Regions from separate parts of the Homo sapiens genome. Here region 2 is linked to region 1. Evidence: fine-mapped expression QTL. Tissue or cell type: whole blood. Region 1 holds a variant in brackets; the other region holds the start of a gene. All regions are shown on one strand. Distances are between the middles of the regions.

Region 1 (8,184 bases):
ATGTTCCACCTTACATCTTATTCATCATTTTCCATCTTACATGTCACTTCCTGAGGGAAGCTTCTCCTGAACCCTCCTTATTCATCATGTTCCACCTTACATCTTATTCATCATGTTCCATCTTACATGTCACTTCCTGAGGGAAGCTTCTCCTGAGCCCTCCTTATTCATCATGTTCCACCTTACATGTCACTTCCTGAGGGAAGCGTCTCCTGAACCCTCCTTATTCATCATGTTCCACCTTACATCTTATTCATCATGTTCCATCTTACATGTCACTTCCTGAGGGAAGCTTCTCCTGAGCCCTCCTTATTCATCATGTTCCACCTTACATGTCACTTCCTGAGGGAAGCTTCTCCTGAACCCTCCTTATTCATCATGTTCCACCTTACATCTTATTCATCATGTTCCATCTTACATGTCACTCCCTGAGAGAAGCTTCTCCTCAGCCCTCCTTATTCATCATGTTCCACCTTACATGTCACTTCCTGAGGGAAGCTTCTCCTGAACCCTCCTTATTCATCATGTTCCACCTTACATCTTATTCGTCATGTTCCATCTTACATGTCACTTCCTGAGGGAAGCTTCTCCTGAGCCCTCTTTATTCATCATGTTCTATCTTACATGTCACTTCCTGAGGGAAGCTTCTCCTGAACCCTCCTTATTCATCATGTTCCACCTTACATCTTATTCATCATGTTCCGTCTTACATGTCACTTCCTGAGGGAAGCTTCTCCTGAAACCTCCTTATTCGTCATGTTCCACCTTACATCTTATTCATCTTGTTCCATCTTACATGTCACTCCCTGAGGGAAGCTTCTCCTGAGCCCTCCTTATTCATGTTCCACCTTACATCTTATTCATCATGTTCCATCTTACATGTCACTCCCTGAGGGAAGCTTCTCCTGAAACCTCCTTATTCGTCATGTTCCACCTTACATCTTATTCATCATGTTCCATCTTACATGTCACTCCCTGAGGGAAGCTTCTCCTGAGCCCTCCTTATTCATCATGTTCCACCTTACATGTCACTTCCTGAGGGAAGCGTGTCCTGAACCCTCCTTATTCATCATGTTCCACCTTACATCTTATTCGTCATGTTCCATCTTACATGTCACTTCCTGAGGGAAGCTTCTCCTGAGCCCTCCTTATTCATCATGTTCCACCTTACATGTCACTTCCTGAGGGAAGCTTCTCCTGAACCCTCCTTATTCATCATGTTCCACCTTACACGTCACTTCCTGAGGGAAGCTTCTCCTGAACCCTCCTTATTCATCATGTTCCACCTTACATCTTATTCATCATGTTCCATCTTACATGTCACTTCCTGAGGGAAGCTTCTCCTGAACCCTCCTTATTCATCATGTTCCACCTTACATGTCACTTCCTGAGGGAAGCTTCTCCTGAACCCTCCTTATTCATCATGTTCCACCTTAAATGTCACTTCCTGAGGAAAGCTTCTCCTGAACCCTCCTTATTCATCATGTTCCACCTTACATGTCACTTCCTGAGGGAAGCTTCTCCTGAACCCTCCTTATTCATCATGTTCCACCTTAAACGTCACTTCCTGAGGGAAGCTTCTCCTGAACCCTCCTTATTCATCATGTTCCACCTTACATGTCACTTCCTGAGGGAAACTTCTCCTGAACCCTCCTTATTCATCATGTTCCACCTTACATGTCACTTCCTGAGGGAAGCTTCTCCTGAACCCTCCTTATTCATCATGTTCCACCTTAAACGTCACTTCCTGAGGGAAGCTTCTCCTGAACCCTCCTTATTCATCATGTTCCACCTTACATCTTATTCATCATGTTCCATCTTACATGTCACTTCCTGAGGGAAGCTTCTCCTGAACCCTCCTTATTCATCATGTTCCACCTTAAATGTGACTTCCTGAGGAAAGCTTCTCCTGAACCCTCCTTATTCATCATGTTCCACCTTACATGTGACTTCCTGAGGGAAACTTCTCCTGAACCCTCCTTATTCATCATGTTCCACCTTACATGTCACTTCCTGAGGGAAGCTTCTCCTGAGCCCTCCTTATTCATCATGTTCCACCTTACATGTCACTTCCTGAGGGAAGCTTCTCCTGAACCCTCCTTATTCATCATGTTCCACCTTAAATGTCACTTCCTGAGGGAAGCATCTCCTGATCTCTCAGATTCACACCCCCATTATACACTTTCGTGGCCCCTATACTTTTATAGTATTTATTGCAATTGCAATTAATTATATATGTAGAATTAGAATGTTGTTTGTGTGTGTTGTTTATTTGTGTATTATTAGAAGGCAGGGACCATGACAGTAGGAATTGTTCACTGCATTTCTTGGCCCAAATATAGTACGTGCTAGATGCTCAATAATGTTCGACATTTGTTGAATAAATGACTGAATATATTAATAAATGAGGAAATAGGCAGCAGTCTGCTTCCTTCATATGTAACACGTATGTTAAAAGATATGCTTGGTAGTGAATTCTGAAAGTCTAATGTAGTGAATGAAAGTGTAATATTGGGTTCTTTTCTTCATGTGCTGTGTTAAATTTAGTTAAATTTCAGTAATGAATCTTAGAAAACTGTCAGCATTAGGTCTGTCAAACAAATGTGAGAGGCAGAAAAGTTCGAAGAGAGAAAGTAAACCAGCATTGTTTCCCCACTTACTGAAAATAGGTTTTGTAACAGAATGGTGCAGTCTAAATGAAGAAATACACCTGTTAGGAATACCTTCTAAAGATCTGTTTGCATGTACTAATGCAAATATGGAAAACTCTTTTTTTTTTATTGGCACATGAAGTCTTTTGACTAAGATTTGTTCTAATAGGCCCAGCGCAGTGGCTCACGCCTATAATCCCAGCACTTTGGGAGGCTGAGGCAGGCAGATCACGAGGTCAGGAGATCGAGACCATCCTGGCCAACATGGTGAAACCCCATTTCTACTAAAAATACAAAAAATTAACTGGTTGTGGTGGCACATGCCTATAATCCCAACTATTCAGGAGGCTCAGGCAGGAGAATCACTTGAACCTGGGAGTCGGAGGTTGTAGTGAGCCGAGATCGCGCCACTGCACTCCAGCCTGGCGACAGAATGAGACTCTGTCAAAAAAAAAAAAAAGATTTGTTCTAATATTAAATACAAAATCAAGCAAATCAAATAGAAACAAAAGAGTCTAGGTTAAAGCACT[A/T]CGGAAGTACTCAGTTACGAGTGTGCTGTTAACTTGCTACATGACCACTTACTAAATAGGGGCTACTTTTTCGCCATCTTAGGAAGAAACTGAGTATACCAGACATCTTAAACATAACAAACATCTTAAATGTTGTCATCTAAGATTCAGACAGGTTTCTAAATGTTTTTGTCCTTGACTTGCAAACACTCAGTGGACACATACAGCCCTCTAACCCACTGTGTCTCAAATGTTGATGTACATGATGTCAGTTGCCATGCATTTTATTTATTTATTTGTTTTTTTGAGATGGAGCCTTACTCTCACCCAGGCTAGAGTGCAGTAGTGCGATCTTGGCCCATTGCAACCTCCACCTCCTGGGTTCAGGTGATTCTCATGCCTCATCCTCCCAAGTAGCTGGGATGACAGGTGCGCGCCACTACACCTGCCTGAGTTTTGTATTTTTAGTAGAGACGGGGTTTCTCCATGTTGCCCAGTCTCTGGTCTCGAACTCCTGGCTTCAAGTGATCCTCCTGCCTCGGCCTGGGATTACAGGCGTGAGCCACCACACCCAGCCCGTGTAGAAGGCATTTATGTAATGAACTGACATCCTTGGAGTGAGCTTTCAGTTTAGTATAAATAGGTAAGGGTTTGGATTCTCTGATCATCTTCTTGGTCTGTTCACTTCCATCCAGAAGGCCTGGGTCTGGATTGGCACCATGGATCTGGTTGAGACAAACAATAAGGCAAGGGCTTGTATGTTCTTTCTTTCACTTTATCGTACTTCATAGCCAGTACATAGTAGTGTTTTATTATGTTATGTTATTTCCTCTATTTTAATTTCTTCTCAAATCCAGGGGCCAGTTGTTTGGGCAGATGTTTACTAGGGACTCTAATCACCTGCTCTTCACCCAAGGAAAGGCAGTCTCTGAAGTCTCATTTCTATTATCTAAAAGCTAGTTCTGCATTTTCCCTTCCTGCAAGCAAGGAATGGTTTTCTTTTGACGTTTCCAGCTATGGTTTGCTTTGAACTGACTTCTTTGTTGTATTGGGGTGTGTGCTCAGTTAATGAGTAATGAACACGATTGGATTCTTCTTTCCTTGGGTAGATACTGGCCAGAATTATTCTTTACCTATGCTGTACCAGTTAATAAAGGACTCCTCAGTTTGTGCTTTCTCATAATTCACCAAATCTAGCAAATCTAGTATCTTTAATTTGGTTTATTATTACCATTAAATATTAGCTGTATGCCCACATTTTGCTAACATGTGGCACTTTGTAGAACTGTTAGGGGACTACCCAGAGAGAGTGCAGTGGTGGTGTGTTTTGGGGTTGTGGAAGAGGGCTGGAATGTAGTCACTGCCCTCCAGAAGTCCCTTTGTCATATATAATACAGAAAAGCCTTTTTCTTGTCCCCTCCACACCCCATCCCCCGCATCCCATCAAGCTGCTTAGGGTGAGGGGAAACACCATGAGAGAGGAATGGCAATAGTGAATGTGTTTTGATTACTCTTTACCATCCTCTTCCCTCAATAGTTTGAACTTTCCTTAGAAACAATTTCTAAGAGGGAATTTCTTAAGTGAGTACTAGGAAAGTTGGCAAATTTTGGAAACAGTGTTTAGTGTCTGTGGTTGCTGTTCTGCATTTCAGGGCGCCTTGCCTACAGATTAATCCCAGCTGGCCACTCTTCTACAGCACTTGCTCAGGAACAGGTTGTATTGACTCCTTCATTTGAGATTCGGTGAAATTCGCAAGTACCTCTGGAATCATTTGATGAACCTCTTTGGAGCATTAGTGATGCAACTTAATGTCTTTGGCAGGGACATTTCTTCTCACATCTTATTGATACTGGGTTTGAGGAGCAGGCTGACTTCTGGTTGTGTAGTCAGCTCTCGGTTTTTTTCTACTAATGGAGAAGGGAGGCATTATAGGGAATGGAAAATTCAAGTTGCAAAGCATTAAAAACAATTTAAAATTATGTTTCATTTAAACTAACAATTGCTGTATTTCTGACCAAATAATGTTTACTTCAGGATAATGTTTTCTTGATTTATTTTTATATTACAAGTTGCCACTTTATAAATTCTACAGATCATGGAAAGTAGTTTAAAAGAGTGATCTTCAGATTTTTAAATTTAAAGTCTATTCTTAATTTTCTTTTATATATATGTATATATATATTTATATACACACACTTTGCACTGTAAGATATTGAGTTTATGACATTAAGGACTCTGGCCCTTCAGTTCTTGAAAATTTAGTGCTTATAAAATTGTGAGGACTATATTCTAATCATTTTCAGTCAGTGAAAAACCTATATACTTTATGAAGCACGCAGGAAACATCTCCTTTTCTGCTTAGTTCCCCTAAAAATGTGGATCAGATCCATCTCCTGGGCCTAGTCAGTATTGATTGAGTGTATACCCAGGGCATCGTGCTAAAGTGTCACCCAAGCTCTGCTCTCCAGGGGAAGAAGAGCTAGCCATTCCTTTTACTGTGCATGCATATGTATATAGCTCACCTATATCCAGAAAACTTAGTTTACAAATGGACTGCTTTTTAGGGAAGGAGTGGACACAAAAGTTCAACTTCAGAGAGGAAAACTAAGAGCAATGCCAAATTAACTGAAATCTTCTGTTTTGAAAGAGGTCTTTTAATTTAAAAAAAGCTAGTTCTTGGAAAAAGCACAATAATCAAAACCAAATGTACCTCATTAGAAAGTTCACGTGAGATAATTTGGGATTTGCAAAATTAGTTTTAATCAATTGTGAAGGACAGCAAGACTATTTCTACCTGTGCCAGGTAGAAATAGTATGTATCTAAAGTCAGAACCATTAGTGTCGGGGCAAGTATAGATACTCATTCTCTGTAGTTGGGTCAGTTGTCTTCCTTATATGTTCGCCTTAGCTAAAATGGCAGAGAGAAATCCTTGTTGCATCATAACAAGGACATTGTCAAAGTACACTGAACTCATGAATTAGACAAATAGCAGCATTGTATCTTCTTTTTCTGGGCCTGATTTTGAGGTATACTGCACTTCCTAAGGGTGATTTCAGAGCTAGCTTGCAGGTGGAGCTCCACCTGCTGATACTTGTGAGGGATAGCTCAGTAAGCACTCCTTCAGCTAGCATGTTTCCCACTAACATTCACACTGATACTCCAGCCTAGAGAAAGACCTTTGGGTTACACCAGTCTCCAGAAAGCCTTCATTTAAATGCAACTAGGGAGAGGCGTGGTGGCTCACCACCTGTAGTCCCAGCACCTTGGGAGGCCAAGGTGGGCAGATTGCTTGAGCCCAGGAGTTCAAGACCAGCCTGGGAAATATGATGAAATCCCATCTCTGCAAAAAATACAAAAATTAGCCATGTGTGGTGGTGCATGCCTGTAGTCCTTGTATGCTTGGGAGGCTGAAGTGGGAGGATTACCTGAGCCTGGGGTTTCGAGGCTGCAGTGAGCTGTGATCATGCCACTGTACTCCAGCCTCAGTGACAGGGTGAGACCCTATTTCAAAAAATAAAAATAAAAATAATACTACCAGGTTGCATGGGGGAGGAATGAGGTAATTGTAAAATGAAGGTTTCAGGGAAAAGCCTGGGCAAGCAGCTCTTGGCCTGGGAAAGGCAGGCCCAGGAACAGATTTCAGAGTTGTCCCAACAAGTTGGGTGAAATCTGTTTCTATTTGCTTCATTTTCTTTTTCTCTCCTACTCCTCACTACTTAGAAGGGGATTTGAGGGACCCATTTAGATCCTTTTCTCACTGTCTCGCCCTCTCTCTGATGGTGGTATTGAGGATAAGACAGTATTTGTCATCTGTAATTAACTGTACTGCATTTGTAAGGCAAGTTGTGCTGTACTTGATTTTTATGTTTCTTTCAAGATTTCTGCCCTTTGCCTCCTGTATTTTTCTATTTATTTGTTTATTTATTTAGGGACAGAATCTCGCTCTGTCACCCGCCCAGGCTGGAGTGCAATGGTGCGATCTTGGGTCACTGCAACCTCCACCTCTTGGTCTCAAGCAATTCTTCTGCCTCAGCCTCCTGAGTAGCTGGGATTACAGGTGTGCGCCACCACGCCTGGCTAATTTTTGAATTTTTAGTAGAGACGGGGTTTCACCATGTTGGTCAGGCTGGTCTCGAACTCCAGACCTCGTCATCCGCCTGCCTTGGCCTCCCAAAGTGCTGGGATTACAGGCGTGAGCCACCGCGCCCGGCTTGCTTCCTTTATTTTTCTAACCTCATCATTTTCTGCTTTGCTCAGTGGAGATTTTCCAATAATGTCACCCAAAATATACTTTTAAGTCAATGTGTGCTATTTTTTAAGTCACTTCTGACTTTAATGTTAGACCTCTCCTTTGATGAAAGTTAAATCTCATGACATGGGAGAGTGACATTATATCTTTAATTAAGATGTTAAATTCTTCTCAAATTCTGTTTCTGATTAGAAAAGTACTTTGAGGTGAATCCCCCTTTCCTCCTTAAAAAAAAAATAGTGGTCAGTTCCTATCTCTAGGTCTTCAGTGAAATGATCCCATTTTTCTGATCCAAACAAGTTTCTGTGGCTCATCTGCTCTGCAGAGCCCTGTGTCTTCTGAGGAACGATTGCTTTCTGCATAACATACAGTGTTCTTTGCTGCTTTCCACCCACAGAGCCTTTCTTGCTGAGGAGGAGGTGTGATATAGGAAAATTATGAGGGCTTTTCAAACTCGCTTGCATTGATGGCCCAGATGGTGAGGAAAATCCCTTGGGGAGCTAAAAATTGAATGGGTTATAGCAGATTTTTAAAATCCCTAATTAGACTCTCCTTCTCTTTAAGACCACTTTTGAGTTACCACTGTATTTATATATCTGAGTCCTGTTTCCCAACTGCTAGTGAGCTCCTTGAGGGCATCCTTGGGTCTGTACACCACTGAAATCTCAGCACCTAGAAAGCAGTTCTCTAATAGTGGCTGATACCATGTGAATGCATTCTCTGCGTCAGGTCCTGTACTCAGCACTTTACGTATGCTCTCTTACTCTTACAAC
Region 2 (8,184 bases), 27 kb before region 1:
AAGATTATTCTGATAGAAAGGAAGGTCTGGTCTGGCTCTGGGGCAGTGGCTCGCTTCTGTAATCCCAGCACATTGGGAAGTTGAGGCGGGCAAATTACTTGAGCCCAGAAGTTCAAGATCAGCTTGGGCAACATGGTGAGATCCCATCTCTACCAAAAAAAAAAGTAGAAAAATTAGCCAGCTATGGTGGCGCACACCTGTGGTCCCAGCTGCTCAGGAGGCTGAGGTGGGAGGATTGCTTGAGCCTGGAGGTTGAGGCTCAAGCATGAGCCACGATTGTGTGCCACTGCACTCCAGCCTGAGTGACAGGGTAAGACCCTGTCAAACAAACAAACAAACAAAAACAAAAAACAAAACAAAAAAAAAGCAAGCAAGAAAGGAACGTCTGTGTTAGAATAACGGTTGTGGAGACCAAGTTTTTATCATGCAGATGAAGCCTCCAGGTAACAGGCTTCAGAGAGAGAGAGAGAGTCTGTTGTATCAGTCTTTTTTGTTTGTTTGTTTTTAGACGGAGTCTCATTGTGTTGCCCAGGTGGAGTGCAGTGGCACGATCTCAGCTCACTGCAACCTCCGCCTTCTGGGTTCCAGCGATTCTCCTGCCTCAGTCTCCCAAGTAGTTGGAACTACAGGCATGCATCATGATGCCTGGTTAATTTTTTGTATTTTTAGTAGAGACAGGGTTTCACCATGTTGGCCAGGCTGGTCTCAAACTCCTGAACTCAGGTGATTCGCCCACCTTGGCCTCCTAAAGGGCCTGGATTACAGGCCTGAACCACCGCACCTGGCCCTATCAGTCTTAAGATCTGTTTTAATGTTGATGCTGGTCAGTTGGCCTGAATTCCAAAAGGGTGGAGGGTATAATAAGGCATATCCAACTCCCCGATCATGGCTTAAACTAGTTTTTCAGGTTAACTTTGCAGTGCCTTTGGCTGAGAGGAGGGGTCATTTCAGATTGTTGAGGGGCTTAGCTTTTTTTTTTTTTTGAGACAGAGTCTCACTCTGTCACCCAGGCTGAAGTGCAGTGGCGCAATCTTGGCTCACTGCAACTTCCACCTCCCGGGTTCAAGTGATTCTCCTGCCTCAGCCTCCCGAGTAGCTGGGATTACAGGCGCCTGCCACCATGCCTGGCAAATTTTTGTATTTTTAGTAGAGACAGGGTTTCACCATGTTGGTCAGGCTGGTCTCAAACTCCTGACCTCATGGTCTTCCCTCCTTGGTCTGCCAAAGTGCTGAGATTATAGGCGTGAGCCACCACGCCTGGCCAGGGCTTAGCATTTTATTGTTGGTTTACATTCAGTTCCCCGAGCTCTTTTAAGAAGTGCATGTCTCCCTAGTAAGCCACACCTTAGAAATAAGCATATTCAGATGAGTAATGCTGTGATGGAGGCAGAGCCTCCTCAGCCCTGCTCACGGAATGCTTCCAGGACTTTGCTGCTGGCCTTATTGAGCTCTGATTCCCTTCTGCACAGGGTCAGAGCTCTCCAGGGAACAATGAAACCCTAAGGAAGAGCAGACCACTTCACAGCCACGTGTGTCCTACCCCACTCTGCTGCATCCCTAGTTAGACTTCCATTCCAGGAACTGTCTCAGCTGTTGGTAATGACATGCCGACTCCATCTGCAGAGGAAAATCAATGTCTTACAATGAAGCACCTGCCATCCACTCTCCTAGGAACCTCTGCCCCTTATAGAATATTCATGCAGCCCTTTTTTGTAATCTCGGTCTGAGTTTCAAAAGATTCCCTAGCAGGAAGACCATTTAACAGATAGACCATTTTACAACGCAAACACTGAAAATTCCGCAGGAGAAAAGAGGCACTGGTTTTTGAAAACCGTGCTCTGTCCACAGTCAGACACCATCTCACATTTCCAAGTAACCCAAACAGTTCCTTCAGTTAGGTAAATATGCCTGGCCATGTGACCAGGAGCTAAAGGGAATAATAGGGAAAACAGAGGGCAGAAAAAAATGTCAGTGGGCATAAGACGAATTTTCTTCTTTTTAATTTCTCGATTTTGTGCTTGATAAAGGGAAAGAGGCCACCATTATAAAACAACTTTTACACACTTTTACTTGTGATTTAGTGCATGGTGACCTGGAACATAAAGAAGATTTATGAAAGGAAAGACAGAATCATAGTAGGTAATTGAGTTATTTTTTAATTTTTATTCTGTCTTTATAAGATTTTTGAGAAGGTAATCAATTAACATAAAGATCTGAGCAGTTATAAAGATTTACAAAGAAGATTATACAGTGATGGAAACTGAAGCATATTCTTGGCAACAATCTCAATCTATTTCACGTTTCCCGGCTTTTACATATATAAATTTGGTATACATAATATGTAAATATACTTCTATTTTGCATGAAAACTAAAAATACTAAAAAAGTAGCATGAGTATATGAAAAAGTTAAACATTAAAAATATTAGTTGGAAACTGGCTTATTTTACTAACAATTATATTCAGAATTCTGTTGCTAGACTGCTGTTTCTGGGAACATTGGAGGTGTACTTTCTATACTTGCTAAAATACAAGCTTTTCAAGTATTTTCCATAGTATTAAGTGAGACTTTAAATACTCTTGCTTTTTTAGATCTAATTTCTGCTTTAATTTATCCTTCTCTTCATTTTTCCTGTTTGTCCTCATCTTACCTGTTCTTCCCTGGTTTTACTATCTCCCAGTATTCAGAAATCAGAGCAAATAATTAGTCTGCTTTTCTGCAGAATAAACTATTGGGTATGCCATCATGCTTTTGATCTACCACATAAACAAATTATTTTAGCAAGACATCACTTTTATATGCTGTATAATGTATGTATTGCTTATGTTTTAAGCAGATTTCAGCTCTTTTCCTTCCATCAATTTGGAATTGGGGGCCCAAAAGATGTGAAGGCGATAATGCTTCCAAGATAACTGGGCTGCATCCTTATTTGTAAAATAAGAAATACTTTATTTCCCAAATTTTAAAGGAGTGTTCCTTCTCCGACCTGTTGTGATGGATTTATTCTATAGCTATGGAAATATACCCTGCTTCACTCTTGTACATACTTCTTTACTCTCCTCCCGCCAAGTTCATTGAAAGAGAACCCATGTGCCGGTCCAGAGCATCGCTGCATCCGTAAGCAGCTAGACCTCAGCTTCCTCTGTCACCATGGTGCCGGCTCGGCTGGGCCCGGCGGTCGCCATGGTAACTGGGGCGGGTCGCAGGGTCCTGGCAGGCTGGGCGCATGCGCGCGGGGACTACAAGCCGCGCCGCGCTGCCGCTGGCCCCTCAGCAACCCTCGACATGGCGCTGAGGCGGCCACCGCGACTCCGGCTCTGCGCTCGGCTGCCTGACTTCTTCCTGCTGCTGCTTTTCAGGGGTGAGTTTGCGCGTTTCCGCTGTTGGGAGACTAGGGTCTGGGGGCGACGGAAGCAGAGCGGGCCGAAGCTGCTGGAGCCGGTCCGGGCGAGGATAGCGGTCCTGGCTCCGAGGGCTCCCGGGGTCCCGGGCCGGAGGGGCGGCGCGCGCCCGCGTCCCCGCAGCCAGGGCTGGGACTCGGGCCTGGCTAGGGCGGGGGCCCTGGGACGCCCGGCAGTTGGACCGGGGCGGGGAGCTAATTTGGGATGGGGGGCCCGTCCCAGGCAGTGAGTCGGTCCCGGACAGCCGTCGGACCCCGGGGGCGGGCTCTTCTCGGGCGGGGTCCTGTGCTGGGCGGTGGGCTCATCCCCCGGGTGGGCTCCTCCCAGGCGGGGTCCTGTGCTGGGCGGTGGGCTCATCCCCCGGGTGGGCTCCTCCCAGGCGGGGTCCTGTGCTGGGCGGTGGGCTCGTCCCCGGGGTGGACCCCTCCCGGGCGGTGGGCACGGCCCTCTGGAGGGAGCGCGGCAGCTGCGGCGTGGGCGCTGGAACTTGCTGGAAGACCCTGCGCAGCAGTGCTGTGCTCTCCAGAAGGGACGGTGAGCGGGGGACGTAGCTGAGGACCGGCGAGGCAGAGCTCCGAGGCCTGGCGGGCTGCTTGGTCACAGCCCTCTGGGGATCTGCAGTTCATTTGACTCGACACAAAGGAACTGCTTTTCTTTTACAGAAATAAAATGGATATCAATCCAGTACCTTTTTTGTCTCTGGCCTGGCCGAGGAGACCACGCAGACTCTTATCCGGAAATAGCATTCGGGGCATTTGATCAAGACACACTAATAAACTTGATAGTTTTGTGCATTTTCTTTCCCTCTGTTTGGAATTCTCATTAGATCCACATTTTCCTGGACAGTTGTACAGAGGACTAAAATAGCTTTCCTTTAGTGAGCTTGTACTGTCTACTAGGCACTTTGGAGCCATTATCTCGTTTACTCCTTTCAGCAGCTCTGTGAGATAGGTTTCATTAATCCATTTTCAGAGTCAAGTCTAGTCTGCTTTCCAAGGCTGCATTCTAAGTAGTGAAGCCTCAACTTCATATTTACCTAAAGCAGGACACCACACTCTTCCCCTGGCAGCCATCCGCAGGTAACCAGACCAGGACCTTTTTCGGTTCTTAGATTATTTTATTGTTTGAATTGCCACTGTCATCCCATGATGTTTTCCAGAATATACAAATTAAAACACGGAGGGACTGTTTAGGAGTGAAGGTGGACAGATTTTGGAAAACAAAGCATTCCTGTGTTTGGTGCTTTATGCTAATGGGATGCTCGTGATGGGCTGTGACAAAAGATGAGTTTTAGCGTATAGATTATGTACGCTAAGGCAAAGTCTGTATACTTTGCCTGAAAGTGATTCCCAAAACCAAATGCTGTTGGGAGATAAGTGATCAAAGGCTAGCCAGGGGACAAGGGTGTCAGGAATGTCCAGCACCCGCTGTGTTGGTCACACTGACACTGTCCTATTCACAGCCTGGAACAACTCTCTATTGTTGAAAAGATCTGTTCACGTGAAAGTTTGCAGTTTTTGTTGCAGAAGCATTTGGCAGTTTAGCTCAGGAATGAATTTCAACTTGGTAGTTTGTTAATAAAACTAGAAAATGCAAAGAGCTTCACTTACCCTTAACCTCTGATTTCCTTCCCCTAAGGGACTAGTTTTGTGGCTTTTTTGCTGGTAGGGGCTGGGATTCACATGCAGAGCGTAGGAGGAAGAATCAAATTTTGCAAACTAGTTCTAATGACAAATAATCGAGGTAGTAGGATGTATGAATCCACTTTGAAGGCGTGTAGCTATCTTTTTTTTAGTAGGGGCTCTTTTTCCATTATTTGGTTTATGCTTTAAGCTACCCTAAAACTGTTCTTCCAGAAGTCATGACTACTGTGTCCTTTTTATTTTTTATGATTATTCTCAATTGCTATTACTATTTATTTTCATCTTAAAAATTTTGGTTCTTGATATAACAGCAAACATTTCTTTTGTGGTTACCCTTTGCCAGGCTCTGTTACAAGAATTTAATGTTTGCTAATTTATTTAATCTTGATAACTCTAAGAAGTCGTTACTATTGTTGTGCCCTTTTGTGGATGAGGGAACAGAAGTATGGAGAGATTCAGACCCTTGTCGGGAGTGTTATCCTGTGCGTTTTAAATGGGAAATCCTTCATTATTTGTGTTAATCCAATTTTTAGTTATTTGTATTATTCCATTTGACGGTGGAGTTCTTTTAATGGATCAGTTTAAACAGATTATCAAGTTTTCAACACTATGTGGTTTGTATATAAAATATTCTTTTGTTGACTCATGACAGGTGCAGTTCAGCTTTACAAATGTTATGCCACATGGCTTTTTTGAATGATTGTGTACTCATTAGTGTTAGGTTTCCAAATCTTTGATATTCTAGAGAGAAGTGCCTTATTTAGAATTAAAACAGCAACAGTTTTCATTCTTCAGATAAGACAACTTGTGTGCTGAAGCATATCAAAATCTGAAAATCAAAATTTCTGGGAAATTTTTGAAAAAATGTTTAATTCTTTTATTTGCATCTGTTTGGACTCCAGTAACGTTTTTTAGAATGGCATATTCTTTTATGTTCTAATTCTTAATTATCTGGCAGATATAATCATTGTCAGACTTGTGTGTATGTTTTAAAAAAAACAAAGAACACCTGTCTTGAAAGCATGCAGTACTTTATATCAGCTGCTCATTCCCACATGACTTGTTGATGGGCATTTGTTCTTCAGTGCTTCAGGCTAAGGAGACTGAATGGATAAGTACTAGAGATACTTAATCATAAGTAATTGCAGTATTACATTCAGGCAGAATTATCCACACAACCCCTAAGCTCCATGGAACTTGTTCTTAAACTCCATGGGGTGGGTTTAAATCAGTTCTTTTGAAAGCAACCAGACTTTCCTCAAGTATAAGATGGCCACATAATGTAACAGACGCAGCTATGGATTTAGTACATTCGACTAGCAGCTGTTAGAGATGTGGTATTAGCAAATTCCTTCTCCATAAATTCTTTGAATTTTTTAAAAGCACAAATGTAGTAAAAGAAAGGAAAATATGTGTGAATGAAGTTAGGATGTATGGAGTCTGCTGAAGAATACCCTAGTGGTGAAGTTGGATTTTTTTTTTTTTTTGAGACTGAGTTTCTGATGCAGTGGCATGAGCTCAGCTCACTGCAAAACTCACTGCAAAACTCCGCCTCCCAGGTTAAAGCCATTCTCCTGCCTCAGCCTCCCGAGTAGCTGAGATTACAGATGCGTGCCACCTTGCCTGACTAATTTTTTTATTGTTTTTAGTAGACATGGGGTTTCACCATGTTGGCCAGGCTGGTCTTGAACTCCTGACCTCAAGTGACCTGCCCGCCTTGGCCTACCAAAGTGCTGAGATTACAGGCGTGAGCCACCACGCCCAGCTGGATTCTCTTTTAAGATATGTTTATAGTTGGCCGGGTACAGTGGCTCACGCCAGCACTTTGGGAAGCCGAGGTGGGCGGATCACAAGATCAGGAGATCAAGAACATCTTGGCCAACATGATGAAGCCCTGTCTCTACTAAAAATACAAAAATTAGCCGGGCGTGCTGGTGCTTGCCTGTAGTCCCAGCTACTCTGGAGGCTGAGGCAGGAGAATCGCTTGAACCCGGGAGGTGGAGGTTGCAGTGAGCTGAGATTGCGCCACTGCACTCTTGCCTGGGGTACAAGAGTGAAACTCCGTCTTGGGGGAAAAAAAAAGATGTTTATAGTCAGGTGGTGTGAATGTTATGCTGTCAAAGTTGAATGCAAATTTCAGATCTTTGCATGTACTCTCAGAATTCTAGCAGTATATGCAAATAGCTTCACTGGAGTGTAAAGCGATCCCGAAAGAAAGTTTTGGTAAGCACATTCTTTTACACCTAGTTTAGCAAGGACAGTATCCACTGTGGTACTCTATATGGAGAGCTAAAGCCTTAATTGACTGTCTCTCTGCTTCTTGGCATGGCACACAGAAAGCTTCCTGAGAGTTAGCCCTTGTTTCTGATGTCCCAGGAATGCTGTAGTGTTTTGTGTTGGTGTGTTTCTTTTGGTTTTAAGTAGTATTTGTTATGTGTTATATATTACATTTCCCATGAGTAGTTAATACATACAGCAGAGGTTTCAGTGCTGCTTGTATAAAGACATCAAACTATTTAATAGAGTTAGGACTATATGAACATTTTTTCTTACATTATCTTTCATTTGCAGTTTCCCAAGGTTTCTATGGTTCAGCCTTCTTCCTGAAAATTATTGCCAAAATCAAATTCTGCCATAGTCATGCTATCTGCTATGTTTGACAACCTCAGCCCACAGTGATCCTTCCTATCTCTAAATAAGCTTAGATCATAGTCTCTAGTTCAGTTTAGTACAACACCCATTTATTGAGTATCTATGACGTGTCAGGCACTGTTCTGTGTGCTAGGGTTGCAAAATGGGTAAAACATCGCCAGTCCTTAAAGAGCCAGGGTAATTGACTCCGATTTACATTGGGCTTTAGTTGTTAGGTGTCAGTGCATTGTATTTTCTCAATGATAATAAACATTTTGTTGGTAACAGAGGCTGAATTTAATTTTTTTGTATCTTTCCAGAGGTGATTCTAGTAAATATTCAGTTTATCTCACTTTGTCACTTGAAAGTGAGTTAACATTTCTTAAACACTCTCTTTGTGTCGAGGCATTTTTAAAAAAATGTCTTATTTCTAGTGGCCCTAGGAACTTCTGGAAAAGTGTCAGTTTGTACTACAGTAGTTATTCTGGAAGAAAGAGAATGGTAATAAT

What was found. PIP is the estimated chance that this variant, and not a neighbour inherited with it, causes the effect.
Region 2: it holds the start of JAM3, and the variant in region 1 is fine-mapped to the expression of JAM3 in whole blood (TOPMed, PIP above 0.99).

Annotation. Positions count from the first base shown.
Region 1 is chr11:134,092,531-134,100,714 of GRCh38, forward strand. All of the region lies in intron 1 of JAM3 (junctional adhesion molecule 3), which reads left to right. LOC124902797 (a long non-coding RNA gene) reads right to left here and starts at 2,155. Exons shown (of 2, transcript XR_007062960.1): 1 at 1,999-2,155; 2 at 1-1,818. The variant A/T (reference allele first, on the strand shown) is at 3,182.
Region 2 is chr11:134,065,799-134,073,982 of GRCh38, forward strand. It overlaps JAM3 (junctional adhesion molecule 3), which reads left to right and starts at 3,274. Exons shown (of 9, transcript NM_032801.5): 1 at 3,274-3,361. The coding sequence starts at 3,286. RefSeq lists a silencer at 3,079-3,268.